2 separate regions of the Homo sapiens genome follow, and region 1 is linked to region 2. The links come from fine-mapping of genetic effects on gene expression. A gene starts in region 2. The other region holds a variant in brackets. All regions are shown on one strand. Distances are between the middles of the regions.

Region 1 (2,912 bases), 27 kb after region 2:
ATGCAGATTGCTTGAAGGTATTATATTTATTGATTTCTTATTCATGTTGTGAAATTTTGATCATTTTTTTTGCTACTGGGAGAAGATAATGATAGAGATTATCCAAAATCTATCAGTGTACTGTTTCAAATTCCATTTTTAAAAATGGCAATGCTGACCGGGCACGGTGGCTCACGCCTGTAATCCCAGCACTTTGGGAGGCCAAGGAGGGTGGATCACCTGGGGTCAGGAGTTCGAGACCAGTCTGGCCAACATAGTGAAACCCCATCTCTACTAAAAATACGAAAAATTAGCTGGGCATGGTGGCCCATGCCTGTATTCCCAGCTACTCAGGAGGCTGAGGCAGGAGAATGGCTTGAACCTGGGAAGCAGAGGTTGCAGTGAGCCAAGATTGAGCCACTGCATTCCAGTCTGGGCAACAAGAGCAAAAATCCATCTCAAAAAAAAAAAAAAAGTAATGCTACCTTACATTCACATTGCAGTTTTCATCTTTCAAGTGTTTTCCTATGTATTATCTGATCCTCAAAATGGTCCTATGCAATAACAATGCTAGAATTATTATGTTTTTTCTTTTTTTGTTTGTTTGTGGGTTTTTCTTTTGTTTTTGTTTTTTTGAGACGGAGTGTCCTTCTGTCATCCAGGCTGGAATTGGAGCTATCTCCACTCACTGCAACCTGTGCCTCCCAGGTTCAAGCAATTCTCCTGCCTCAGCCTCCTGAGTAGCTGGGACTACAGGCGTGTGCCACCATGCCTGGCTAATTTTTAGTAGAGCTGGAGTTCCACTGTGTTGGCCAGGCTGATCTCGAACTCCTGACCTCAGGTGATTGGCCCGCCTCGGCCTCTCAAAGTGCTGGGATTACAGGCGTGAGCCACCAAGCCCAGCATGTATTTTCTTTTACACATATTCATCTTTCAATTATATTCACTCAGGATATGTTAAAATTAGCTTATAATTACTAAGTGCACAACTACCGGTGATCCATGACAGAAGTTAGAAACATAATTACTCCCCAGGCAAGTCAGTTCATAATTTAAAATCCACCTACAAGCAATTTATAGTATTCTACTGGTGGGTGATTAAACATTGATTACTATTCTTTCTCTTAAGAATCGAAGTAAAAGCAATTTTGTTTTTATTGTCTAAAGGACTTCTCTTAAGAATGCTCTCAAAAACATTCTCCATGGCTGGTTTTTCACAGTCTTGGCCCCAGGTTTCCCGTGTATTTCTGCTTTGCCAACCCTTACCTTCTCTGCCCACTTTGACTTAGACGATTCTCCACCCCACTCCCACTCCAAACAGGGGTTGCAATTCCTATCCAGAGGACCTTAATTGATTGGGGAGAAATTTACTTGGCAACAAGGATACGGGCCGGATAGATATCAGCTTGAGAGTCTAGCCAACTGTGTAAATCTCTGATACAGTTAACAAGACAAAGAGGCGTTTTAAATTTAATTGAATTTTCAATGCTTCTGTAATATCAAAATTTTAGTCATTATATAAGTCTGTTATCAAGTGTCATGAAATATTTGCTCTTTTTCTTTAGCAAATAATACTTCAGACAGAAAGCTTCTAATTGTTATTGACACAAATATTCTGATGAATCATCTCAAATTTGTTAGAATTTTGAAGACAACAGAAGTACCAGGTATTTACAGAACATATTTAAAGATTCTGATTTTCTTCCTTGAGTTGATATTTTATATTAACAATGAT[G/GT]GGCTTTTTTTGCCATGAACATGTCTCCATTTAGATATGCTATATATTAAGCATATTCAGTGTTATAAGTTTATAAAAGCCTTTACAGGTTAAACTAGCAATCTGAACTCACTCTTTTTTTGATCTCCAAGAGTAATTATTTTTTTAACATTCTTTTGACACGTTATTTTCTTTTTAATTTCCATTTTATAATATATTGTCTCTCAATTTATTGTGAATTTCCTAAAGGTAGGGACTGTGTGCTTTAAAACTTTTACCTCTTGGACAGCAATTCCATTTAGTAGCTCAATAAATGTTTGTTAAATTCTAAGAAATCTTTTTATTTTTTAGGTTTTGACAAACTTGTGTTAATAATTCCCTGGGTCGTTATGCAAGAGCTAGATCGTATGAAGGAAGGAAAACTACTAAAACGTGCCCAGCACAAAGCTATACCTGCAGTTCATTTCATCAACGACAGTCTCAAAAATCAAGATAGAAAGCTATGGGGTCAGTCAATACAACTTGCATCCCAAAAACATTGTAAGTATTGTTCTCTCAGAGTGCCTCCTGATTAATACTTGTTTGGGTGCAGACTCATTATTGGAGGGAAATGGTGCAAAACTTTTAAAACATTTAAACCCATTGGAATGTGAAATGGAAGGGGCATTGTGATGGTTTGTGGCTTAGTTTAGGAGTCTTTGACTTTTATTTTTCTGCTTCTCCTAGACGTTTTTACATTATGTCTATATTTCACAGATAGTGACTGTATAGTTGTGTATGCATAATTATCTATATCCCAGAACCTTGGACTCCTTTTTTAAAAATACCATTGCTGAGTGATGAAGTCTGTAAGTGATCTAGGTTTCTAGTCTGTTAATATCACCATATGCAGTTAATGTACTGTGGAGACGATGTTGCTTTCCTGTGGTTTGTCAGAATCGGTAATAATGAATGAGGTGTTTTTACAATAAAGTAGTGTATAGATTTTCCCCTCATTTAATTTTTTTCAATATTAGTTTCTATTAAGGCATTTAAAAAATTGCTTTAGTCTTAGAAGCTAAGGATGTTCTTTATGTTTTATATAATTTGCTGGAAAAATATCTATATATAAAGGAACACTTATTTCTGTGGAGTTTATACATATATATTTAGAAGATTTATTTCATTCTTTCAGAATTTGTTTCTTCCCAGCTCAGAATTATTTATATATGTAAGCTTA
Region 2 (2,912 bases):
TCTTTCTTAGACCTTACATTTTAAAATGTTAGAAGATCCTTAAGAAAGTGTTACTCATCAGTCTTTTAAATTCCTATATGGTCCAATAAACCACCACTTAGAAAACATGCAGGCACATTCAGAAGCACAATAATATGGGCCATTAATTCTCAACAGTCTATTTCTGATGGAATGGAGTACAAAACTCAATTGGTATTTATGTATGGGGGAAAACATCCGTAAATTTAGTCGACTCTTTCCTAAACTACTACTCAGCCTCAAAATCTTTTCGGAGGCAAGCTGCTAGCGGGGGAAAAGAAAACTGAAATGAGAAAAACTCATCTCCTTGTGGCTGTCGAAGCAGAAAAGCTAGTTGACAGTAATGGTTTAGAAATGTTGGCAGCTAGGATCTACTACCGTAAACAGGTTGCCTCGGTTACTATGTCACATTTGAAAGAACTTAGTTAACCATGGCAGACTGGACTGCGGGAAACTACCAAATTATGTGTAACTTCCTATTTTTGTACCTTAAAAAGACTCCCTTTTAAGAAAAAGCCCTTAACCTCATTATTTCCTTCTATCTGCAGCATTCCTGCTCTCCGCATATCCCTCACCGTGACATCCTCGAGGCTTATGAAGATGCCGTCTCCCATTCTGTAACCCTGCTTTAGCCGCTACACGGGCCCCTCTTTCCTCCCCACCATTTTCCTAAACCTGCCTTGCCCCATAAAAACCATCCCGGTGAAGGGCCTCCCCTACTTCCCAGCAAGGCGCACTTTCTCTCTTCTGCAGCAGAAAGATCTGGGCCTTCTGCACTTACTGCTTTTAGCCTCCTCAGGGGCAGAGGCTAGGGACGGGGACAGGGCCGGAGCCTGGGCCAGGGCAGGGGCTGGGGCTGGAGCCGAGGCCGGAGTCGGAGCCGAGTCCAGAGCCGAATCCGGGGCCGGAGCTGGGACCCCAGCCGAGTCCCGGGCCGGGGTCGGGACCTGGACCTGGGCCACCTCCACCTCCTCCTTCTCCAGGGGCAGCAGCTCCTCCTCCGCCATATTCTCCATAGTTACCGCCTCCGTGCCAAGCCCGCCCGGGGACCCGGAGCGGGGCTCACGGCGGGGTCAGAGAACTGACGTGAATGCCCACAGGGCTGGATCCAAGGAGTGGGGAAGCAAGTGGGGAGGGCGGGATGCGTGCAACAGACAAAAGATGAAGAACCAGTGACCAAATCCTGTTAGTAGAAAACAGAAAGCCAGAGGCAGCGATTCCAGATGCCCGTCCGCTTCCCTTTCCCCGAGGCGTTACGACGCCACCACAAACTGCGCAGAAGCGTACTGGGGACGGCGTCCAATTGGGTAAGAGGGTTCGGTTTCTACGGTGCGTCTCCGGCCCACCGGCCAACCACCAAACCGAACAAAGACTACAGCACCCAGGATACACTGCGCAGTCTGGGGGCGGGGCCGGAGTTCAAGCCTCGGAGGAAGTAAATGCAAATCTAAGCGAGCGCTGTGGGGCGGTGAGTAGGTAGTGCGGATGCGGGCGCAGAACTACGTTTCCCAGCAGGCATACAGTTGGTGGGGCGGGGTGTGTGTGTGTGTTGGGAGGCGGGGGTCCCTCTCCTTTGGCTTGGGGCTCCGGAGTTGCCACTGCCGCCGGCGCTGGTAAGGTAGGAACTGCGGGGTGCGTTGACGTTTTGCTGGGCAGGTTCCCCCTCGTCCCCCGCCCCAAGTATACTGGCGGGCGGGCGGCCGGCCGGACTGGGGACTCAGGAGTCACACGGACCTGGGCGGGGCGACTCTGTGGGCGGGTCCGGGGACGAGCCAGCTCCGTGGAGGGTGTGGTTCTGGCCCGGCTTGCCTCCGGGGCTGCCCCTTGCCCGGTGTTGGGGTCTGGTCGGTTCGTGCGGAGCCCGCGGGCCCGCGGCGGTTTACTAGCAGCTGACGAGCTTGCCTGTCCATCCAGCTGACTTGGAATTAGGGTCTGTTCTTCATTTCGCACCCTCACCTACACCGTGACCCGAACACTCTTTTCCTTTGTTTTTATTTTTGCTTTAGTCTTCATGTTGCCAGTATCAGCAGTTCTGCGGTGTGGCCAGTGGATAGAAATTAGTTGTTTTGCTCTATTTTGCTTTGTTTTCAGGCTTTTAATAACCAGAGCTCTGAGTGGGTAGAGCTTCGGGGCATTTAATTTTGATGCGTTTCAGATCCCCAAAACATATGCTAGCGAGTCCCCTGTCCCCCGTACTTCTCTCCCCTTCACTCTTAGTGCCTACTTGACATTCGAGCCTTTCTTGTTTCTTTCTTCTGTCCCCCCGCGATAAATCCACTGGGACAGAAAGGAGAAAAACGTGAACTTTCTGGCTGCCCTGCTTGGGCTTGGTCCGAACCTTCTAGGCATCAGGGCAGGAGAGGGAAGCCCAATTTAGTCTCAAGAACAAGACGCGCGCTTCCAGTTAGCTTTTCTTAGTTAATTAAGTTGATAAACGCCAATCTTCTTGGTCTATTTGTTTCCTACTTGTTTCAGAACCCCGGGGAAGAGATAGCATGATTATTTGGCACTTTGAAGCACTAACTGGAAATTAACTCCTCCCCCTATAGTTAAGAAGTATATATCTGGAGGGGTGTGTGTGTGTGTTTAACCTCTCCCCAGTTTAATGGGAACAGATTATCCCTGTGGAGCTTCTGTGAGTTATAGTCCTAAATCCCTTTTACTGATCGTCCCGTACAGCTTTTATCTAGTATTCCTGAATGTGTAGTTGACTCATGGCTCAACAGTCAATTAAAAATGGGATAACACTGACTATAACTTACAGAAATGCTAACTATATCTGTGCATCATCCAATAATTCTTGTTCTCATTTCTTTTTTTTTTTTTTACTGTCGTTCATGATGATTTTTTATTTCTAAATGACTAGATGGTTAACTGAAAGCTAGATTCAGTAT

Evidence for each region. PIP is the estimated chance that this variant, and not a neighbour inherited with it, causes the effect. A credible set is the group of variants that fine-mapping cannot tell apart.
Region 1: its variant is the best candidate, but not a certain one, in a credible set for the expression of SWT1 in whole blood (INTERVAL, PIP 0.82).

The regions. Positions count from the first base shown.
Region 1 is chr1:185,182,699-185,185,610 of GRCh38, forward strand. It overlaps SWT1 (SWT1 RNA endoribonuclease homolog), which reads left to right. Exons shown (of 19, transcript NM_017673.7): 8 at 1,545-1,646; 9 at 2,045-2,233. Among named protein-coding and RNA genes, the nearest start is that of SWT1, 27 kb to the left of the region's middle. The variant G/GT (reference allele first, on the strand shown) is at 1,715.
Region 2 is chr1:185,155,679-185,158,590 of GRCh38, forward strand. It overlaps SWT1 (SWT1 RNA endoribonuclease homolog), which reads left to right and starts at 1,489. Exons shown (of 19, transcript NM_017673.7): 1 at 1,489-1,636. TRMT1L (tRNA methyltransferase 1L) reads right to left here and starts at 1,275. Exons shown (of 15, transcript NM_030934.5): 1 at 800-1,275. The coding sequence starts at 1,034. RefSeq lists enhancers at 363-1,268, 1,112-1,221 and silencers at 772-1,021, 1,762-1,881.